Linked DNA regions of Homo sapiens: region 1 is linked to region 2. The links come from fine-mapping of genetic effects on gene expression. A gene starts in region 2. The other region holds a variant in brackets. All regions are shown on one strand. Distances are between the middles of the regions. Region 1 overlaps RPN2 (ribophorin II). Region 2 holds the start of RPN2 (ribophorin II).

Region 1 (8,000 bases), 49 kb before region 2:
GGGGAGACCGGATGCCAGATCTCCTTCCTATCACAATCAAGTGCAGGCAGCTGCCAAGTTCATCACCAAAATGCCACCTCCACCTGGAAGGTCTCTAGGCCATGATTCTACAGCAGAATTCTGGATGAGACAAGTATTCAGTGAAAGTTACACTTCCTCACTAACTCTCCTTGCTCTAATCCTAATCCTACTAGTTTAGTCTTTTACTTTCTTCTCTTTGTACTCTTCCTTCCCTTGTGCTATTTGGTTGGCAAATGTCATTCTGGGAAGAAGCTGGGAAATGCTAAGAGGCTGAAGTACTCAAAGGTCAGTTAGGCTTGGCTAAGGGCCCTAACCAAGCTGTCTGGAGTTTGGGAGTAGGGAGGAGAGAGGAGCAGAGGACTCCCAGGACTGTGGCCATAGAGGAACGTGCTCCTGGGGCACAAGTCCAACAGCTGCAGCTGCAAGAAACAGAAAGCAAGAAGGTTCTCAAGTAAATCCAGTTGCCTCTGAGGTCTGCCCTGAAGCTGCCTCAAGGCAACAAGTCTGCTGGTCCTTGCTAAAGCATCGGTACAGGGTACCCCATACCAAACTAGGTCCCGCATTCCTGTCTTTCAGCATTCAAAGTATTTATCTGAATCTTCCTTCACGTAACACTAAAGGCAGGTTATTCTCCATCAAGGGGGATGACAGGCAGTGTGGGAGTGGGGGTATCTGAGTGGACATGGGGCCATATTAGGTTCTCAGGGGAAAGAGTATATGGTTTGAAAATCTTTTAAATAATAATTTTCATTACTCTATGAAAAAAATAAAGCCTATTGCTTTCATAATACAAAGTAAGCACAAGTTAAAAGGGCTATTCTTCAGAGTCCCACAAATACAAAATCTGCTTTGGCTAGAATAAAAAAATGCTTTGGGTCTTCTTTTGAAATTATTTCAGTATATTCCCTTATTTATTTATACATACATACATACACACAAATGAGGTCTCACCATATTGCCCAAGCTGGTCTCCAACTCCTGGGCTCAAGTGATCCTCCTACCTCTGCCTCCAAAGTGTTGGGATTACAGGCGTGAGCCACCATGCCTGGCCAGCACATTCCCTTTTTTAAATCAGAAAGAAAAAGCCTCGAGTCTAGTGCCATGCTTATAATCCCACCACTTTGGGAGGCTGAGGCAGGCGGATCACCTGAGGTCAGGAGATGAGAACAGCCTGGCCAACATGGTGAAACCCTGTCTCTGCTAAAAATACAAAAATTAGCTGGGCATGGTAATGCATGCCTGTATCCCAGCTACTTGGGAGGCTGAGGTAGGAGAATCGCTTGAACCTAGGAGGCAGAGGTTGCAGTGAGCTGAGATCACACCACTGCACTCCATCCTGGGTGACAGAGCAAGAGTCCATCTGAGGGAGGGAGGGAGGAAGGAATGACCTTAATTAAGTGCAAATCTGCCTTAAGTACCTCTCCTCAATACCAGCTAACTTTTTAGAAAGAAGGGTGTATCCCAGGTAAAGGACTACAACCAGTAGAAGGGTGAGAGTGTCATGTGGGAGAACCTGATGGACTGTCAGGGTTCGGTCAAAACCTGAAAGCAGGAACGTGGAATTCTCTCTAGTCCATGTTATAGACCACATTGTAAACTCTAGTATCCATTCACATTTCAGGTTAAGAGAACTGTCTAGGTGTCTTCCTGACCTGGTGAGGAGTGAGTTCAGCACCAGTGTTCACATCTACCAGCTGGAAGAACAAGGCGAAGTTCTGGTGGCTGTCTGCGATGAATGTGCCCTTGGCTTTGGCTGGGTATGTCACCCTGAAAGAGGCATATAGAGTTAGTCTTCAGAGAGGATCAGTATATCTCTGAGAACAGGCAGAAAATATATACTTCACTTCATTGCCTCAACCACCCTCTCCCATAGTAACACTTCTGTTGTGGACAGACAGATGTGGAGAACTGTCTGCAACCTGGGGGCAAATTGGACTGATAAAGCCTGGACTGAGAAAAGTGCAGAATAAACTTCCAGCAGGATCTGGGGAAATGCTGTGTACAGATGCTTGTACCTCTGGGCTTTCACTTCAAGGACCTAAGGCTCTCAACTCCAACAAAGTCAGGCACCAGAGGAGCTCACGTGTGGCCTCTGCAGGCACACAGGAGAGCCGGGCTGGCAGAACCGCAAGGAGAAATAATTACAGGATTGATGCCAGCAGCACACGTGAGCAAAATCGAGACAAGGCAGGTAGGAGACACAAAAGAAAGAAGGGTACTTTCAGCTTTGTCTTTTTTTAATGCTATATTTTTTTCCTGGACACTGTTTCAATTTAGTTTTCTGCCCTGAAACTGGGTTTTAAAAAGTCATTTTCCCAAAAGGCAGACTTGATGAGGAAAACTTCTTTTCACAGCTATCTCCTGGGATTTTAGGGTAAGATGGCCAGGGGATAAACCAGCCAAATGGTTACAGAGCTCAGACCTGGCTTTATTTTATACTCACATTTTACATTTACTCGTAAGTAAGACCAACTCTTCATCTAGGCAGAGAATTAAACAGCAAAGCGCTCGCACAGACATTTCTTCAGTGGATTCTTAAACAGTGCTCTTATCTCCAATATCACTACAAAAATAGCCAACCCAGAGACACAAAGGCCAACTCTATGTGATTTAAAAGGAGTAGCTGCTTGGCTTCCAGCCTCTGGCTAACATCCCATCTTCAAAGAGCCTTGATGGTTCACCCTACTGTCTTCTGGCCTCTATAGCTACCCTAGTTGAGTAAAGTTGGGGTCTGGACTATACCCCAGAAATCTAGATCCCCGCTGAGCCAATAAGGATCTGGGGGAGGGCTGATGAGCAGGCTTCTTACAGCATTCTGGCCCAACTCTGTTCAATTGTTAGTGTCTACTTAGAAGATTATGTTTCAAAAAAAGATTCTGAGGCTGTGTCTGAGTTCAGTGGGAGCAAATGTTCTATGACTTCTTAGTACTGCCTCCATGGACTTGGGAGGGGGAAATGGCAGCCCTAGTGCTGGGTATCTGCCATCTCAATTTTAAGCACGTGTGAGGCTTCCAACTAATTTCAGACCCATCATAGGCCAGAGAGACTTGCCATTAGGTCACTAAAAGCAAATTCAGGACTGTGATGATAAGGAGATCGCACCAGAATGTAAATTAATACCTTGCTTCCTTCATTGAGAAGGTCTTATTATTTTAAAAATTATCATCTGAACTAAATAATATGCTTAGTGACATAGCTGACTGACTCAGACTAACATCCTGAGGTAAGCGCTTTACCTCGTTGAGGACTGGTTAATAAATAGTTTGTGCATGGACTAAACACTGGTATATACAATCTCCAAATCCACTTAGATAATTCGCAGAATCCCCGGTGCAGGACCAGTGGAACTACAGACTCTTTAATTTAGGATGTAAGCTGGATGGCTGCTGACACAGAACTGATGCCTGCAGGGCTCAGTGCCTAGGCATACTCCTCTCAGCTCTTGAGCCTCAGCTCCCTGAGTGATCAGGTGGCATCTCACCTACCGGGTAGTTTTGGGTGCAATGCTCTGATCCTTATCCACGGTGGAAAGATCAACATTTGTGATGCCAACTTCAGTGGAGATCTTGACTCTGAGCTAGAGGAAAATAGAGAAGACAGTTGCCAGGTCAATTGGTGGGTGTTCAGGAATTCACATGCAGATATAAAGTTTTCTATTCTTTAAGGTGAGTAAAGGCATGAAAAAATCCTAGAACAAGAGTCTTCAAGGATGATAATAACACTGACCCAGCCCAGTAATATTTCCAACCTCTCCCATTCCGAGGCCTAAAATGTCTTTTTCTGGCTTTGGATGGATGGTAAACATCAAAAAAAAAAAAAGAAGAAGAAAAAGGAAAAGAAAAAAAGTAAATCTTTTCATGTGTCCTTTAAAATAAATAAGGGGAAAAATCCTTAAGCAGTACCTTTCATTCAAATCAGCAAGAATTGGGTTCTAATGATAGCTAGGATTTATTGAGTGCTTACCATGTGAAAGGCACTGGCTTTGTAAAGACTATCTCATTTAATCCTCACAATTCTGTAAGGTACTGCTTTTCAGATAAGGAAATAAAAGATGAGAGAGATGAAGCTGCTTTGCTCAAAATCAGACTGTGAGGAAGTGATCAGGCCAGTGTCAAGCTCAGGCACTCTGACTCAGAATCCATGCACTTCAGCTCCTTGTTAGACAGTCATGGTAGTTATCTGTACTGTTGCCCAAGTACTTCTCATTCTCCTTCTGAGCATGTGGTAGAATTCTACTTCCCTGCCCCCATGGAGTCAAGTGTGGCCACATGATTTGCTCTGGCCAATGAAATGTGGGCAGAAGTGAAAGCTTTAAGAATCAATGTGTGATTCTCTCTTTTCCTCTGACATGGACACAATGTCCAGATGCTTGCTCCTTCAGCCAGGGTCCTGGAGCAAAGATATCATGAAGCAGAGCCTCCAGTTGACCACCTAAAGAATCTAGCGTGGGGAAAAAATAAACCCTCATTGTTTTAAGCCACTGAGATTGGGAGTTTGTTATAAGCACAAACCAATCCATGTTGACTCTTAAAGTGTTTGAATTCTGTATGTCCCTTAAACATCTTCACAAAGAGGGGCTAATGCCAATAAATGAGAAATTTTAAAATTAGATTAAAATCAATGTAAATATCCAAAAGAGACAGAAAACATGTTAAATTTCTGAATTAAAACCCAAGTTTGAATGTGCAAATTATGCAAACCCAAGGCGCTTTTATGTGCAAACAGATCT[G/A]TAAGCCTTCCAAATATTTGATAGGTTTGAATGTAACACTTAAGGAAATCCTTGCCAAATCCACTGGTTTATAGTCTAAGTCAGGATCAAGGAATAGAGATAACGGGCTGGGCAAATAATTGAAGGATAGCTCTGGCAGTTTTCTGAAATACCATATCGAGGTGTGACAACCTCAAATCAAGGGCAAAGAAGAAAAATTAAAAATAAAGATACCTATCAAGTAATTCCTTCTAACGGCCTTCTTTCCTGCCTCTGTAATAACTATTTTATGACAACAGCCTCAATTATCATGTTGAATAGGGGTGTTGTTTTGCTTTAAAAAAAAAAACTGTAAAGGTTTATTACCAGAAGCTGTAAGGATATTACCATCTACTTTTGAATTCACAGCCACCTATGAATTCATAGCAGAACTATATTTAGGATCATTGCCTGTCATTGAGTCTAGGCAACTGGGTGAAATTATGGCAGTGGAGGAGGAGGGACGATGGCCCATCAGGTTGAATAGACACCCCCAAGAAGGGAGCTAGGAGCCTCACTTTGGCTCTTTGGGCTCTCTGCTGAGTTAACAGCGTTACAACTCACGCAAGGCTCAGAACCAGAGCAAGCTTTCTTGCAAAAAACACAACCCGACAAGTACTGACATCATTTCCACTGGAAAACAAACTGGAATGGAAGGCTCAGGCAAAGAAGTAGCCACAGAGCTTTGATTTGACACCTGCTGAGAGCACTTTCCCCATTCAGGGAATATACAGAGATGGCAAGAAATCCTTCCTGTCCCGTACACAAACCATAATTATAATAAACCAGGTTGCTGCTTTAATGGATGTACAAAGTGTTATGAAAGCACAGAAGGAACTGTGACCCAAGTCTGCCCATGGGTGGCCCCAAATGGGGAGTAGGAAACATTCCATAGCAAGAAGACTGAGGAGGAGGCTTGATGGGCTTAGCAGCCCTCCAATTTTGGGAGAGGTAGGAGGATTAGCAATAATACTCCATGCTATAAAAATAATCTGTCTTCAGAGTTAACTACTCTGCAATCTTCATCAAGATTAACTAGGTAATTCCCTATTTCTCTAACTCATTCTCTTAAGAACTCATTCATTTAATCTGTAAATGTGATCTTGAAATCATCATCCTACTGAAATGTCCATAAACAGAAGACTAGCTAAATAAAGAAAGATACATGCATATTATTAATTACTATGGAGCAATTAAAAAGAACAGACTAGGCCGGGCGTGGTGGCTCACGCCTGTAATCCCAACACTTTGGGAGGCCGAGGCAGGAGGACCATTTGAGGTCAGGAGTTTGAGACCAGCATGACCAACATGGCAAAACCCTGTCTCTACTAAAAATACAAAAAAATTAGCCAGACATGGTGATGCACGCCTGTAGTCCCAGCTACTCAGGAGGCTGAGACAGGAAAATGGCTTGAACCCAGGAGGCAGAGGTTGCAGTGAGCCAAGATCATGCCACTGCACTCCAGCCTGGGCAATAGGGCAAGGCTCCGCCTCAAAAAAAAAAAAAAAAAAGAATTGTGTAAAGTCTTCAGTGTCTCCTAATGATAGTGATAAGGAAGCTATCAGCTTTTAGGTTTTCACTTAGAATCCTGGCTGTAAACTCTCAGCACTAACTGGCCACCAAGGCCAGCTAATCAGGATCCAGCTTCGTGTGTGTTCTAAAGACATCCTGAGCATCCCCAGACAATGCAGATACATGGAGTGAGCAAAGGGCAAACTGCAGTGAACTTGCATCATTCTTGGTTTGCTCTCAGCCCCAATTTTAAAAGGTTTCCTAAGTTACAGCTTTCATTGTTGCACATAAACACCCGTAGGGCTGTTCCTAAATAGGGAACAGTTTAAAACAAATCCTTCTGCTCCTAAAATCTCACTATAAATGGGTCTCTGGAAACACTCAAAAGCAAAGCATTTTTATGCTACTCTTTTAAAGCAAATTTAGAAATAAAAATCGTAACTTTTTCCAAAGCCCTCTTTTAAAGAGTTCAGTGTAGGATCCCTGTTGATTAGCTGCTTCTTCCTTCCAACTAACAATGCAGGATTCGTTTTTATAATAGGAAAGGGACTTATTTCTCCACTTTAAATGCAGCTAAGCCTGCTTTACACTGGATCATGCTATTCCTTTCTTTGCCTGCACCACATGCCATATACATCTCAAAAAATGTTTTAACGCCAGGAAATGCAGTCTTTCTGCTGGGAGTAATAACACCCCTGTTTAGCTTATTACTGTCAAAAATGATGGTGCATTAGGGGCAATTAATGCTAATGAGAGCGTCCAAAACCGATGCTTCCCCTGACAGCCAGTCCAATGTCAATGAGGGCTATTACAGGACTTCCACACCAAACCACCGTTAATGCACTCTGACCAATGTCGAGCATTTCTTGGGAGGACAAACAGGACCCAATGACCTGCTCTGAGGCTCTAAGTGTGATTATTACTGAAATTACAAAGAAAAGTTGCATATACGGCAAAGGTCAAAGCCGACTCTCTCTCTCTCTCACACTCACACACACACACACACACACAAACACACACACCTCTAATGTAATAAGGAGGAAGAGAGAAGATTTTGTAATGCTTACTCCATCACTAGGGAGGAAAAGGAGAGTAAATGGCCTCAATGGGGGCTTATTATCATTGCATGAACAAGAGCTATTAGCCATTTCTGCTATTTTGTACTTAGATAATTTTTCCAACAATCACAGAAACACTTGGACAAACACCAGATTTGATGTTACAAAATGCCAAGCTGTTACAGTAATCAAGACAGCGTGGCACTGGCATAAGGACAATACAGATTAATGAAATAGAATTATGAGTCCAGAAATCAACCCTTACATTTATTGTCAAGTGATTCCTACAAGGATGTATGTGCCAAGGCAATTCGTTAGGGAAAGAACAGCCTTTTCAACAAATGGGTCTAGGACAACTGCAAAAGAAGACTGGACCCCCTACATCACACCATACACAAAAATTAACTCACAATGAATCAGAAACCTAAGGGTAGGAGCCAAAAGTATAAAATTCTTTTAAGAAAACATAGTAGTAAATCTTCTTAACCTTGGATTACATAATGGCATCTTAGACATGACACCTAAAGCACAAACAACAACAACAAAACATTTTAAAACTGGACTTCATCAAAATTAAGATTTTTTGTGCCTCAAAAGACAACATCATGAAAGTGAAAATACAACCTTCAGACTGTGAGAAAATATTTGCAAATCATGTATT
Region 2 (15,836 bases):
CAGCTACTCGGGAGGCGGAGGTAGGAGGATCACTTGAGCCCAGGAGGTTGAGACTGCAGTGAGCTGAGATCACACCATGGCACTCCACCCTGGGTGAGAAAGAGAGACCCTGTCTCAAAAAAATAAAAGACAGCTGGGCACAGTAGCTCACGCCTGTAATCCCAGCACTTTGGGAGGCCGAGGTGGGCGGATCACTTGAAGTCAGGAGTTCAAGACCAGCCTGGCCAACATGGTGAAACCCTGTCTCTACTAAAAAGACAAAAATTAGCCAGGTGTGATGGTGGGTGCCTGTAATCCAAACTACTTGGGAGGCTGAGGCAGGAGAATCACTTAAACCCAGGAGGCGGAAGTTGCAGTGAGCCGAGATCGCACCACTGCACTCCAGCCTGGGTGACAGAGTGAGACTCCATCTCAAAAAAATAAAAATAAATAAATAAAATTAAATTAAAAAAAGAAAAAATCTATCACGTGGTGTATTCATCAAATGTATACTGAGCTACTATGTGCCACACACTACTTTAGGTGTTAAAAATACAGCAGGAAACAAAAGAAACAAAACTCCCACCCTCAAAGAGCTTCTATTCTAGTGACAAAAGACATCACATGAAATAACATTATTTATCACATTACAAAGTAAGTGCTATGGAAAAAAATAAAGTACAGAAGAGATATTTGGGAAGGGCTGCATTTTAAATACGGTAGTCTATGAAGGACTAAGAAATAAACATATTGAGTACAGATCTGAAGAAGAAGCAAGTCATAAAGATATCTGGTGGGAAACTATGCTAAGAAGAAAAACCCAATATGGCCAGGCGCAGTGGCTCACACCTCTAACCCCAGCACTTTGGGAGGCCAAGGCAGGGGGATCACCTGAGGTCGGGAGTTCAAGACAAACCTGGCCAACATGGTGAAACCCCATGTCTACTAAAAATACAAAACATGAGCCGCACATGGTGACTTGGCCTGTAATCCCAGCTACTAGGGAGGCTGAAGCACGAGAATCACTTGATCTGGGAAGCAGAGTGGGCAGTGAGCTGAGATCGTGCCACTGCACTCCAGCCTGGGGCTCTGTCTCAAAAAAAAAAAAAAAAAAGAAAAGAAAAACCAAATGCAAACATTCTGAATCAGGAGTATGTACACATACAGTGTTTTTTGAGATCAGCAAGGACAGTACAGCTTGAGTGGAATAAGCAAAGGGTAAGAAGTAGATGAGGTAACAGAGGTAGCAGAGGACAAATCCAGAGGGCCTTGTATACCACCGTAGTGGAAGCCACTGGAAAGTTCTTTTTTTTTTTTTTAGACAGAGTCTCGCTCTGTTGCCAGGCTGGAGTGCAGTGGCGCGATCTCGGCTCACTGCAGCCTCCGCCTCCCGGGTTCAAGCGATTCTCCTGCCTCAGCCTCCCAAGTAGCTAGGACTACAGGCACGTGCCACCATGCCCAGCTAATTTTTGTCTTTTTAGTAGAGACGGGGTTTCACCATGTTGGCCAGGATGGTCTTGATCTCTTGACCTCGTGATCCGCCCGCCTCAGCCTCCCAAAGTGCTGGGATTACAGGCGTGAGCTACCGCACCCGGCTGGAGACCACTGGAAAGTTCTAAGCAGAGGAGTGATTTGACTTACACTCTAATGGTATTACTGTGTTGAGAATAAACAATACTGTGTGGAGAACAGACCATGCAGGTGCAAGGACAGAGCAGGGGACACCAGTTGGGAGACTACCGCCATAATCCAAGCCAGAAGATGATGGTGGCCCAAACCAGGGCAACAGCAGTGAACATGATGAGAAGTGATGAGAGTTAGTCTGGCTAGAATTCAAAGTCAAAGCCTATCAGAAACTGCTAATGGACAGAAAGACCTAAGAGAGAGCGGAGTCAAGATACTAATGCTGAATCCCCAATGCCTTGTGCACAGGCGGGTACCCAATATATGAAGATCTAGTGAATGGCTGCGACTAGCATTTTCCCACCTAGACCGTAAATTCCCCTAAAACAGCACCTGTGTCAGAATCCTAATCTTCTCACTCCATGTTAACGAGAGCAGTAACTTTTCTGACTAAAAGTTGAGCACTTAATATGTTAGGTATGCCCACGCTATGCTGTGCTTTGCACACACCAAATCATTAAATCCTCACAACATCTAAGCAAGGTGGCTATTTTCTGCATTTCACAGACCAGGAAAGTAAGGCTCAGAAGTAGTTACCTGCCCTAGGACACATCACTGAAAATCAAACTTCAGGCAATTTGAATCCAAAGTCTGCTTTTAACCACTTTACTATCCTGAACTTCTCAAATAATGAAACGGTGAGCCACTGACTCATTCATGTGTCACCCTGGGCAAGTAAGTTCCCTTCCGTGGGATTCCAACTTCTCATCTGTCAAATGGTAGTAACAAGAGTACATGCTTCCAAAGTTACGATGAGGCTACATGAAATTCCACCCTGCACAGCGTCTACTCAGTAACTTCCAATGCAGTTAACTTAGTTCTTACCTAGGGCCATGCACTGTTCTAAACTAAGCACGAAGATTATTTCACTTAATAAAGCAACTCAACGAGGCAGATAACGTGACTAATTTGACTAACTTATTTTACAGATGAGAAACTGAGGTGTAGAGGGGTTAAGTAACCTGCTTTGGGTTACACAATGAATACGTGGCCGACTGCAAGTTTGCACCTAGAGTGTCACTTGAGAACTTATGCTCCAGGCTCCCAGAGAGAAGTGAGGGTTTTCTTTGCCCCTTTCACTGAATGGGAAACTACAGCACAAAGAAGGACAATCTGCCCAAAACCTCACACGGAGTAAGGGGCAGCGCCGGGACCAGAACCTTAGGCCGCCTGGCCCAGAAGCCCGCGCGAGTGAAATGAATGAGGCCAGACCTAGGCTAAGCGCGTCCGCGGTCCCCACGGCTGAGCCTCGGGGCGACCCGTAGCTCCGCGCTGCACCCCTCCCCCAGGCACCAACCCCGCCAGGTCGCGGGCACTCCCACCAGCTCGCAGCCCTCCTTCGGACCCTCGATCCGAGAGCGCCCCAGCCAGAGCTTGTGCCCATGCCCCTGTCCCGCAGGGGAAGGGGATCCCGCCTGGCCGGCTCTCGAGCGGCGACTAGTAACCTCCCGCGGGCGACAGCCCTCTCCCCAAAGCCACGCGCAACTCCTCACCCGGCGGCGCCATTCCTCCGAGCAGGTCCCGCCGGAGTCCGAGCCGCGGGCTGACTTCCGCTCGGGAAAGTGGCTCCAAGAGCCCGCCACAGGGGACGCCAGGGACTCGCGGCAGGCTCTGCGGGCCAGGATGAGTTCTAAGCACAGGTCAGTGTCCGCGGCCCCGCTGAGCTTCGACGCTTCCAGCAGCCGCGGCCGGGATCCCAGTCCTCCCGCTCACAGGGCCTTGCAGTTCCCGAGGACAGACCCGCCTCTCCCCCGCGCCCAGGCCCACTTGGAACCGACCGTCTCGCAACGCTCCTATTCCGGGAGCTACCGGGACGCGGTTGGGCCAGGCCTCGGGGTGGGCCCGAGACGGGGCCGCTTCTGATTGGCCTGTCTGCTGTCACTCACTCGTCTTTCTGCTGCCCGGCCCATTTTAAAGGAACAGGAAGGGTCTCGTCGGGAGGGGATAGCTTAGAAGGGATTTTTTTTTCCTCTTTAGAAAATTGTGGCAGTTTCTGGCCGGGCGCAGTGGCTCACGCCTGTAATCCCAGAACTTTGGGAGGCCGAGGCGGGCGGATTACCTGAGGTGAGGAGTTCGAGATCAGCCTGGGCAACACGGTGAAACCCCGTCTCTACTAAAAATACAAAATTAGCCGGGCGTGGTCACACATGCCTGTAATCCCAGCTACTCGGGAGCCTGAGGCAGGAGAATCGCTTGGACCTGGGAGGCGGAGGATGCGGTGAGCCAAGATCGCGCCATTGCACTCCAGCCTGGGCAACGAGTAAATCTCCGTCTCACCAAAAAAAAAAGAAAAAGAAAATTATGTCAGTTTTTTCCAAAGATTATCAGTGGGGTTGTTAATAACTGACCTACGAGTGACGTTTTATCTGATTTGCAGAGCAATGCAGTGACTCATAGAGAACATATTAGGCCAGTTTTACAGGCTCAACATGGAGGTGGCTCATCCAGGAACACCGCTCTAATAACTAGCGCCAACTACTGAATGTTTACAGTATAACCCGACACTGTGCCGAACGCTCTACAAGCATTATTTCTTTTCTTTCCTTTTTTATTGATACGGGATCTTGCTCTGTCGCCCAGGCTGGAGTGCAGTGGTGCGATCACAGCTTACTGCAGCCTCGACATCCTGGGCTCAAGCAATCTTCCCTCCCGCCTCAGCCTCCGGAGTAGCTGGGACTGCTGCCTTGCGACACCACGCCCAGCTAATCTTTAAAATTATTTTTGGTAGATACCGCGTCTCGCTTTGTTGCCCAGGCTGGTCTGGAACTCGGGCTCAAAGGATCCTTCGGCCTTAGCCTCCCAAAGTGCTGAGATTACAGGCTAATCCCATTTTAAAGAGAAGGAAACAGATTTGAACCTAGGCAGCTGACTCCAGAATCTGTGCTTTTAACTACAGTTTTATGAACATATAAAGTATGCACAATATAACTCTTATTAACGTTATTATTGTCCCAAATGTTATCCCGCATGGGAGAGAGTCAGTTCTTTCTGTGTCTGTTATGATAGCCACTAGCCTTATGTGGATATTTAAATTTGAATTTAAATGGATTAAAATTAAGTAAAATTTAAAATTCAGTCTCTCATTTGTACTAGCCACATTTCAAGTGCTCAGTAGCCACAGATAACTAGTGGATATCAGATTGGACCACTCAAAATTATAGGACATCTTCATTATTGCAGAAAGTTCCATTGGGCAGTGCTGATGTAGAATATATAAAGAATTCTCCCAGCTCAAGAATAAGACAACCAACCAGTGGTGTGCTGGAGCTGTCTCATACTATCTTGAGAGTCCATTGTTAAATTTGCAGTAATTTTGCAAATTGGTTAAATACAGCCATTTAGAAAATTATATCAATTTAGGATGAAATAAAGTATATTGAAAACAAAACTCATTATTTTCTAATTATTTCACTACATTTTACGTTTTGTGTGCTTTTGTGGTTGCTTATATCTGTTGTAACTGTGTGGTGGAAATATATGACAGTATGCCATTGAACATCTCTTCCCAAGGTAGTATTGGTAGCTTGATTTTGGCCATGATGGGAGTATTTACACCACAGACTTAGCATATGCAGCCAGGAATGGTGGCTCAGTCTGTAATCCCAGAGCTTTTGGGAGGCTGAGGTAGGAGGATCACTTGAGTCCAGGAATTCGAGACCCACCTGGGCAACACAGCAAGACCTGCCTCTACAAAAAAAAAATTTTGATTAGCCAGGTGTGGTGGCTCGCATCTGTGGTCCTAGTGACTAGCTGTGGACCACAGATGGGAGCCACCACACCTGACTAATGAAAAAGAAAAAGACCAACAATAGCAAATGTTGGCAAGGATGTGGAGCAACAGGATCTCTCATATCCTGCTGATGGAAATGTAAAGTGGTACGACCATTTTGGAAACAGATTGACAGCTTCTTCGTTGTTTGTTTGTTTGTTTTGAGACAAAGTCTCCCTCTGTCACCCAGGCTGGAGTGCAATGGCACAATCTCAGTTCACTGCAACTTCCATCTCCTGGGTTCAAGCGATTCTCGTGTCTCAGCCTCCCGAGTAGCTGGGATTACAGGCGCGCGCCACACTGCCTGGCTGAATTTTTTTGTATTTTTAGTAGAGACGGGGTTTCACCATGTTGGCCAGGCTGGTCTCAAACTCCTGACCTCAAGTGATCCACTCACCTCAGCCTCCCAAAGTGCTGGGATTACAGGCGTGAGCCACTGGCGGTGGTTGTTTTTTACGAGGCAAGGTCTCCATCTGTCGCTCAGGCTGGAATACAGTGATGGAATCATAGCTCACTGCCGCCTTCACCTCCTGGACTCTAGGACCCTCTTGCCTTGGCTTCCTGAGTAACTGGGACTACAGGCACATGCCACCACCCCCAGCTAATTTTTTGTAGAGATCGGATTTTGCTATGTTACCCAGGCTTGTCTCAAACTCTTGGTATCAGGCAATCCTTTCGCCTTAGCCTCCCAAAGGCAATGGGAATACAGGCGTGAGACACAACACGTGGCCAGGCAGCATCTTAAGAAGTCAGTTACACAATCTACCACACAACCCAACCATTCTGCTCCTAGAGGGTTTCTTTGTTTTTAATGAACTCATTTTTTATTAAAGAAATATATGCATACAGGACAGAGTTCAAACTTTATTGGTTTGGGGTGTCCTTCCAAAATTGTTTTATTGGCTGGGCGCCGTGGCTCATGCCTGTGATCCCCACACTTCGGGAGGCCAAAGTGGGCAGATCACCTGAGGTCAGGAGTTTGAGACCAGCCTGGCCAACATGACGAAACCCTGTCTCTACTAAAAATATAAAAATTAGCCGGGCGTGGTGGCAGGCACCTGTAATCCCAGCTACTCAGAAGGCTGAGGCATGAGAATCACGTGAACCCAGGAGGCAGAGAGGTTGCAGTGAGCTGAGATTGCACCACTGCACTTCAGCCTGAGCGACAAAGTGAGACTCTGTGTCAAAAAAAATAAAAATTAAAAATAATAAATAATTTTAAAAAATGAATTCCGTAAGTTGTGTTTTTGTTTCTTCTAGAGACAAGTTCTCTCTGTCAGTCAAGCTGGAGTGCAGTGGTGCCATCATAGCTTAAACTCTGCAGTCTTAAACTCCTGGGCTTAAGGGATCATCTTGCCTCAGCCTCCTGAGTAGCTAGGACTACAGGCACATGCCACCACACCTAGCTAATTTTTTACTTTTTTTTTCTTTTTTTTGAGATGGAGTCTCGCTCTGTCGCCTGGGCTGGAGTACAGTGGTGCAACCTCGGCTTACTGCAAGCTCCACCTCCCGGGTTCACGCCATTCTCCTGCCTCAGCCTCCCGAGTAGCTGGGACTACAGGCGCCCGCCACCGTGCCCGGCTAATTTTTTTGTTTTTTTTTTTTTTAGTAGAGATGGGGTTTCACCCTGTTAGCCAGGATGGTCTCAATCTCCTGAACTCATGATCCGCCCTCCTCAGCCTCCCAAAGTGCTGGGATTACAGGTATGAGCCACCGCTCCTGGCCAATTTTTTACTTTTTTGTAGAGATGAGGTCTCACCGTGTTGCCCAGGCTAGTCTCGAAGTCCTGAGCTCAAGCAGTCCTCCCACTTCAACCTCCCAAAATGCTGAGATTACAGAGTGAGCCACCATACCCAGCCTCCATAAGTTTTTTTTCATGTATGCCAACATTTGTGTGTGTGTGTTTCTGTGTGTATACACATATACTTATACTTTTGTGAAAATAGTTTTGTTTTAATGAAAAATGTCATATCCATTGTTTGACAGCTTGCTTTTTCTTTCATGAATCTATGCTAAACATTCAGTAAATAGAGACCTGCTCAATCATTTACTCTGCCAATAATTGTTGAGCACTTCTGTATGTCACTGTTCTAGACTCCTGGGATACATTCATGAACAAAGCAGCCAAAGATTCTTGCCCTCATGAAGCTTACATTTTAGCAGGAGGAAATAAATGACAATGAACATCATAAACAAGTGAAAGATATATTGGAAGGTGTTACGTGCTATGGTAAAAAGAAAAAGTAGGAAAGGGTAAGGAAGATAGAGGGAGTTTGGTGAGGTGTTCTACCTCAATCTGGTTTTTTTGATGGGTTTGTTTGTTTTTTGAGATGGAGTCTTGCTATGTCACCCAGGCTGGAGTGCAGTGGCACAATCTCGGCTCACTACAACCTCCACCTCCCAGTTGAAGTGATTCTCCTGCCTTAGTGTCCCGAGTAGCTGGGATTACAGGCATGTGCCACCATGCCCGGCTATTTTTTGTATTTTTAGTAGAGACCAGGTTTTGCCATGTTGGCCAGGCTGGTCTTGAACTCCTGATCTCAGGTGATCTGCCCGCCTCAGCCTCCCAAAGTGCTGAGATTACAGGCGTGAGCCACCTGCACCCAGCATTGTTTTTAACAGCAGCATAGTATTTCTTACCTATCCATTCACTCCTAATGAGACTGACAACATGCTAGGTAGGTATTGGGGATACAAATGTGACCATGTAGACGAGGGTTCTCTCTAATGGAGTTTATAGTCTGATAGGAGACAGTCAAACAAATAAACCAAATGAGCAAGGTAATTGTAGGTGGTGGTTAAATACCATGAAAAAAATAAGAAGGTAACTGTGGGGCCAGGATGGTGGGAGCTACTTAATCTAGATTGGTGATGAATAAATGCCTCTCTCAGAAAGTGACATTGAGGCTTTCAAATAAATGATGAGACAGAAGCAGTCCTGGAAAACTAATTTTTCGCATCTCCTCTTTATTCCTAGGATCTGTAGTCAGGAAGAAGTAGTGATCCCCTGTGCCTATGACAGTGATTCAGAAAGTGTGGATTTGGAGCTGAGCAACTTAGAGATTATTAAAAAAGGCTCAAGTAGCATTGAACTGACAGGTAAAAAGGAGAAAGGACTAGAAAGGGGAGGGGAGGGGAAAAGAGAATGTATTTTCAACTCAGGCCAAGAGGTATTGATTGAGTACTTGCTGGGTGACCAGCCCTTGACTAGACTTTGATGATGAATTTGGTCCCTGACTTTGAGACCTTGAAATACAGTTGGCAAAATGAGATACATGGTTCGTGATGTCCAGGAAACTAAGGTTGGTCCTGAGACAGTTCTGCAGAAGAGTGTGAGTGCTTGAGGGATTCTGAGGAGGGAAAGGGCAGTGTGGGATACCTTGGAGTGGGAGGACTTTATGCAGAAGGTAAGATCTGGATTGGGCTTCAGAATAACTTTCATTCTACAAAACATGTATTGAGTACCAGGAGCTGGGAATACAACAGTAGACATGACCAACATGGTCACTGCCCTCATAGAACTTACATTATTGTGCAGAAAAGAGACCAAAAAGAGTAAACAGTCACTGAAGTAACTACAACTTGTAGTAAGCAGTATGGAAGAACAGGCTGAGACAAAAATAAGGGCAATAGGAACCTACTTGAAACTCTGGTTGTCAGAGAACACCTGTATGAGACCATGAGTGCTATTTAAATCTAAAGGAGGCTTGAAAGATGTGAGAGTAACTCATGTGAGTATAGGGAGTACTACAGATAGATGGGGACAGCATGTGCATGACACAGGAAAGATCCTGGTGTGTTTGAAGCTACCTTCATTCATTCATACATTCATTCAGCAAATACTTAATGAAGCCCTCCTGTGCTCTAAGCTTAATCTAGCAGCTGGAGATATAGCATCGAACAGAACAGACACAGTATACCTACGGATGAACAGGCAAATGGAACTCAGTGCAATCAGTGTGATGGGGGTGGGAGAGCCAGAGTGGATACAGAGCGGTTTATTAGTGACTTGGGGATACTTAGCCAAAATAGGCAAAAAGGGCATACACGAAAGGCATCCTGGAGCTGAGACTTGAAGGATGAGTAGGAGTTAGCAAGGCAAAGATAGGTAAGGGAAGGTGGGGGAGAAGAAGGAGAAAAATGCAGGCAGAAGGAACAGCCTGTGCACAGATCAGAATGAGAACATGGCTTCAATTATTGCAATTAGTGGATGATAGGAATATGGCAGGAAGTGGGTAGAGTTTACTGAAGAGGCATTCAAGAAATCAAAAAGAATGCAAAAGTAGAGTGGTGGCCGGGCACGGTGGCTCACATCTGTAATCCCAGCATTTTGGGAGGCTGAGGCGGGTGGATCACCTGAGGTCAGGAGTTCGAGACCTTGCTTGGCCAACATAGCGAAATCCCATCTCTACTAAAAATACGAAAATTACCTGGGGGTGGTGGCGTGTGCCTGTAATTCCAGCTACTTGGGAATCTGAGGCACAAGAATCGCTTGAACCCAGGAGGCAGAGGTTGTAGTGAGCCAAGATCGCGCCACTGTACTCCAGCCTGAGCGACAGAGTGAGACTCTTGTCTCAAAAAAAAAAAAAAAAGAATGGTAAAAATCTTCAGATGAAAGATGTGTTAAGGGGGAAATACTTCTGGGATCAGTTCTTTGCATGTATTACCTCATTTAATTCTTATAATAACCCTGTTTTACAGAAAAGGAAACTTAGGTTTCAGGAGGCAAACTAGCTTGATAAAGGTCATACAAATAGTAAGTGGTAGAGCCAAGATTCAAACTAGTCTCAAATTGAGATTTAAAGTCCATAGTCTTAACCATTCTGCTACAGCTCAGTCCCAAAGGTTTTTTGTAGCTTAGGAGGCCCTTAGAGAACATTGAATTTATTTTTGAGAAAACTGAGTCTAGGAGACAGGATGGGACTTGGTTAAGGTCATAGAGCAAGTAGTAAAGGTGAGCCAGAGGTACTCCATACTAAACCTTATCACTTTACACAGTACGGAGGCATCATCCAGTGTCTTTCTTTCAATGTTAGACTTGGACATCCCTGACATCCCTGGACTCCATTGTGAGCCCCTGTCACATAGCCCCAGACACCTGACCCAACAGGACCCGCTCAGTGAGGCCATTGTTGAGAAACTGATCCAGTCCATCCAGAAGGTTTTCAATGGTGAGCTAAAGGTATGCACAAGCAATTTTTATGAGTTATCCAACTTATTCCTCCATTTTAACAAATATTTTAAACATATTATTTCTTGATTATACAAATAATTTTATATTATAGGTTATAAAACATGTTTGTTTTATATTTATAATACATATATTTACATATATTTATAAATTATACTTACATATATAATTATGAAATTAATGTAAAAACAAAGAAAACCATAATAAAAATTAAAAGCTAATCTTCCCTAATTCCAGTCTCAAATAACTACTGCTGACATTTTGGTTTATATTTTTTTAGACTTTTTTTTTTTTTTTTTCTGAGACAGTGTCTCACTCTGTCGCCCAGGCTGGAGTGCAGTGGCACAATCTCAGCTCACTGCAACCTCTGCCTCCCGGGTTCAAGTGATTCTCCTGCCTCAGCCTCCTGAGTAGCTGGGATTACAGGCACGTGCCACCATTGCCCAGCTAATTTTTGTATTTTTAGTAGACATGGGTTTCACCATGTTGACCAAGCAGGTCTTGAACTCTTGACCTCAAGCAATCCACATGCCTTGGCCTCCCAAAGTGCTGGGATTACAGGCATGAGCCGCTGTGCCTGGTCCTCTATGGCTTTTAAATCCCATTCACCCAATCAACAAGTAATGAATGAACAGCTACCATTTATAAGGCACTATGCTAGACGCAGGGAAGAAGTTGGAGTAGTAAGATTAAAGACTATTCACAGATAAACAAACTGGGCCACAAACAGACCGAGACCCTGTCTCAAAAAATATAATACTATTCAGCAATTAAAGGAGGGAACTATCGATACAACAGCAAAGATGAATCGCAGAGGCATTGTGTTGAGTGAAAGAAACCAATCAGAAAAGGTTACAGACTGTATGATTCCAGTTGTGTGACATTCTTGAAAAGACAAAACATGGTGATGCAGAACAGATTAGTGATTCCTAGGCATTAGGGTGGGGAGAGGATGTGACTAAAAAGGGATAGCAGGAGAGAAATTTAGGGGATGGTGGAACTGTTCGTATCCTGATTGTGGTGATGGTTACACATGTGTATGTGTGTGTTATAACACATGGAACCACATGCTTCCTGCCGAAATCAGTTTTACTGTATGATACATTTTTAAAAATCATGTTGTCACTTTGTACCGCATAAATATATACAACCATAATTTGTCAATTTACCAAAACACACACAAAACACACACATACACATACACACAAAACCACACAGAGCCTCCACTGGAAGGAGGATGAGGGAAACTTCAGGAATGCTAGTAATAATCTGTTGCTGGCTACAGGGTGTTTTTTGGTTTGTGAAAATCCACCAAACTGTACATTTTCTTTATGTAGAATACCAATGAAAAATAAAAATAAAACATTTAAAGCCAACATGTTGGCCTTCACTTTTGACTTCAGCTAATCCTTATACTTCATATCAGCATGGTTTTCTTTCGATTTCTTTGTAGTTAATGAAGGGCTTGGATTGCTGCCATGAATTGAAACAAAAAAGCCCATTACCTGCCTTGAGCTGATTCCACAGTCAGTCAGGGAAATAGATTAATAAGAAGGTCATTATGTCAGAGTATCGCAAGTGCTGTGATAGCAATTTATTCATGTGGTTTGTAGATACACTTAGAAAGGACACTGGACCAGCCAGGCGCAGTGGCTCACACCTGTAATCCCAGCACTTTGGTAGGCCAAGGTGGGCAGATCACGAGGTCAGGAGTTCAACACCAGCCTGGCTAACATGGTGAAACCCCCATCTCTACTAAAGATACAAAAAATTAGCCGGGCATGGTGGCAGGTGCCTGTAATCCCAGCTACTTGGGAGGCTGAGACAGGAGAATAGCTTGAACCTGGGAGGCGGAGGTTGCAGTGAGCCAAGATCATGCCATTGCACTCCAGCCTGGGCAACAGGGTGAGACTCTGTCTCAAAAGAAAAAAAAGAAAGGACACTGGACCCTGCTTCAGGAGCAAACGCATTCTCCAAGTCTTAAGATATATAGAGATTTTTTTTTTCTTTTTTGAGACAGAGTCTTGCTCTGTCACCCAAGCTATAGTTCAGTGGCGCGATTTTGGCTCATTGCAACCTCCGTCTCCCAGGTTCAAGCACACCTATAGTCCCAACTACTCAGGAGGCTGAAGTACAAGGATCCCATGAGCCCAGGAGATGTAGACTGCAGTGAGTGGTGATCACGCCACTGCACTCCAGCCTGGATGACAGAGCAAGACCCTGTCTTAAAAAAAAAAAAAAGGTTCTATGATAAATAGGAATTTTATATATATATGTATGTATGTATAATTAGAAAAGAGGCCGGGTGCAGTGGCTCACGCCTGTAATCCCAGCATTTTGGGAGGCCAAGGCAGGCAGATCATCTGAGGTCAGGAGTTCGAGACCAGCCTGGCCAAGATGATAAAACCCCATCTCTACTAAAAATACAAAAATTAGCTTGGTGTGGTGGTGCATGCCTGTAGTCCCAGCTACTTGGGAGGCTGTGGCAGGAGAATCACTTGAACCCAGGTGTACCACTGCAGTCCAGCCTGGGTGACAGAGCGAGACTCCATCTCAAAAAAAAAAAAAAAAAAAGAAAAAGAAAAAGAGAGGCCAGGCATGGTGGTTCTCACCTGTCATCCCGTCATCCCAGCACTTTGGGAAGCCAAGGCAGGTGGATCACTTGAGCTCAGGAGTTTGAGACCAGCCTGGGCAACATAATACAAATAATTAGCTGGACGTGGTGGTGCGTGCCTGTGGTCCCAGCTAGTTGGGAGGCTGAGGCGGGAGGATTGCTTGAGCCCAGGAGGTTGAGGTTGCAGTGAGCTGAGATCGTGCCACTGCACTCCAGCCTGGGTGACAGAGCGAGACTCCATGTCAAAAAAATAATAATAATAATAGTAATAATAAAATAAAAAAGAAAAAGAGAATGTTAGTACTGAGAGATTTTATTCTTCCAATCAGAACTTGGATTTTAATAGGAAATTTTAAAAGCAAAATAATGAATTTTTAATGACATTGAAAGAACTAGAAGTAACAGAATCAGAGAGGTCACCTTTAGGAAGCTTTTTTTTTTTTGAGATGGGATCTCACTCTGTCACCCAGGCTGGAGTGCAGCGGCACCATCTCAGCTCACTGCAACCTCCGCTTCCCAGGTTCAAGTGATTCTCGTGCCTCAGCCTCCCAAGTAGCTGGGACTACAGGCACAGGCACGCGCCACCACGCCTGGCTACTTTTTTGTATTTTTAGTAGAGACAGGGTTTCACCATGTTGGCCATGCTGGTCTGGAACTCCTGACCTCAGGTGATCTGTCCACCTCGGCCTCCTAAAGTGCTGGGATTACAGGCATGAGCCACCATGCCCAGCCTAGGAAGCTTAATCAGGCAACACTACACAGGACAGGCAGGTAGAAAAGCAAAGACTAAGAGTGGGGAAAGCCAGGATGGAACATGGAGCTGAGAGGAGAGCCGAGGTCTCAAAGCAAGGCAGGGCCAGCGGACAAGGAATTTCACTGAAATCTTCCGTAATTTACTCATTCTTTGTAATAAAAGACTGATATTGGGTTGAAAGAGATGTCAGATATTTAAAGCATTCCAAGAAACTTTTCAAAAACTCTCCACAGTTATTCAAATAAGATTATGACATATAATTGTATTTTTATCATTTTCCCACAAATTCAGGGTGAACTTGAAAAGCTGAAATTCCTAGGAGATCTGTCTTCTCTCAGCCAAGCTTTACCTTATGATGAAACCGCAAAATCATTCATTCACAGCCACATAGCAGACATTGTGCATACCTTAAATGTAAGTATTATGACCTTATCACAAATGATTGGGATCACACAAATTCAGTGACTTGGCCAAAGCATTTTTTAGTGGCTTCACCTATGTTATCAATTCACTTGAACTCTTCTAGTATCAGTATCTCCACATGGAGGAGAAATACTCATGGCCACCCCACACATGTAATCACCCTTGAAAACCAATTAAAAGAAGAGTAGAAAGGACAGGAACAGCATTTGAATTTCTCAGCAAGGCCAACGCTACATTCTCATGACTCAAGCAGTAGTTCCCAGACAGTCCCCATAATCGTATGCCTAGGTTCAGGGGACAGCCCTGCCTTTTTATAGCTGTGAAACTGTAGGAAATTACTTCACTTCTCAATGCCTCAGTTTCCTCCCCTATAAAACAAGAATAGCTATATCTACTTCACAGAGCTATTGTGACCATTAAATTCAAAATAAATATAAGCCATGTCCATGGTACCTAATACACACGAGCCACTTGAGAAACATGACTATATTATTGTTATCGTATTTTGTTCTATTTGTACTTACTCCAGCCACACTCTGCCACCAACTCATCCATTCATTCCCTCATTAAGTGCCTGACAGTTCCAGGAACTGTCTTGGGAATTTGGGCTACAAAGACAAAGAAGACAAAATCCCTATTTATGCAGCCAAGCAAGGTATAATAAAATGTCACAGGAACTGTGACAAGTTTAAATAGGCATATGGGGGGCTGAGAGTAGAGATTGAGTGGTCAGTTCCATGGCAAAGGATCCAGAAGGGCATTGCAAAGGAGCTGATGCACTCAAGCAAGTACTTCTTGGTGTTTTAGTTTTCTCATCTGTGAAATGTCTCCTTCAGTTTCTCTAAAGCTTTAAAATTCTGATGTTGAAATTTCTTACATACTCCAGAAATATGAGTAGTTCTTTCTCATATCACAGATCTATAAGGCTGATTAGACTGATAGCTTTTATAATTCAAGGCTAACCAGCTAACAGTTTTAAGTAATGGACAGTTACCAAGGATCTTCTATATCCAAACACACTGTGGTGCTTTGATAAAGGTTACGCATTTCCTGGAAACCTTAATCCTTGCCCTTGAAGGGTTTAGGATCCATCTGTAAGTAGCCATATTTCAAAAAGTAAATAGGTTGAGAACTATTCCAAATAATACATTAAGAAGAACAGGATGATATAATACAGGTTTAACAACAAAAAGCGGCGGCTCACATGTGTAATTCCAGCACTCTGGGAGGCCGAGGTGGGCGAATCACTTGCGGTCAGGAGATTGAGATCAGCCTGGCCAACATGGTGAAACCCCGTCTCTACTAAAAATACAAAAAATAGCCGGGCATGGTGGCAGGCGCCTGTAATCACAGCTTCTCCTGAGGCAGGAGAATTGCTTGAACCTGGGAGGTGGAGGTTGCAGTGAGCTGAGATGACACAACT

The links. PIP is the estimated chance that this variant, and not a neighbour inherited with it, causes the effect.
Region 1: its variant is fine-mapped to the expression of RPN2 in whole blood (INTERVAL, PIP 0.90).

The regions. Positions count from the first base shown.
Region 1 is chr20:37,219,476-37,227,475 of GRCh38, reverse strand. It overlaps RPN2 (ribophorin II), which reads right to left. Exons shown (of 17, transcript NM_002951.5): 10 at 3,507-3,598; 11 at 1,674-1,788. Among named protein-coding and RNA genes, the nearest start is that of GHRH, 38 kb to the left of the region's middle. The variant G/A (reference allele first, on the strand shown) is at 4,751.
Region 2 is chr20:37,166,689-37,182,524 of GRCh38, reverse strand. It overlaps RPN2 (ribophorin II), which reads right to left and starts at 3,195. Exons shown (of 17, transcript NM_002951.5): 1 at 3,156-3,195. The coding sequence starts at 3,168. MROH8 (maestro heat like repeat family member 8) reads left to right here and starts at 2,977. Exons shown (of 25, transcript NM_152503.8): 1 at 2,977-3,136; 2 at 3,138-3,302; 3 at 8,409-8,530; 4 at 10,468-10,613; 5 at 14,282-14,404. The coding sequence starts at 3,045. RefSeq lists a silencer at 2,920-2,969 and enhancers at 2,520-3,077, 3,090-3,139, 3,490-3,569, 3,078-3,637.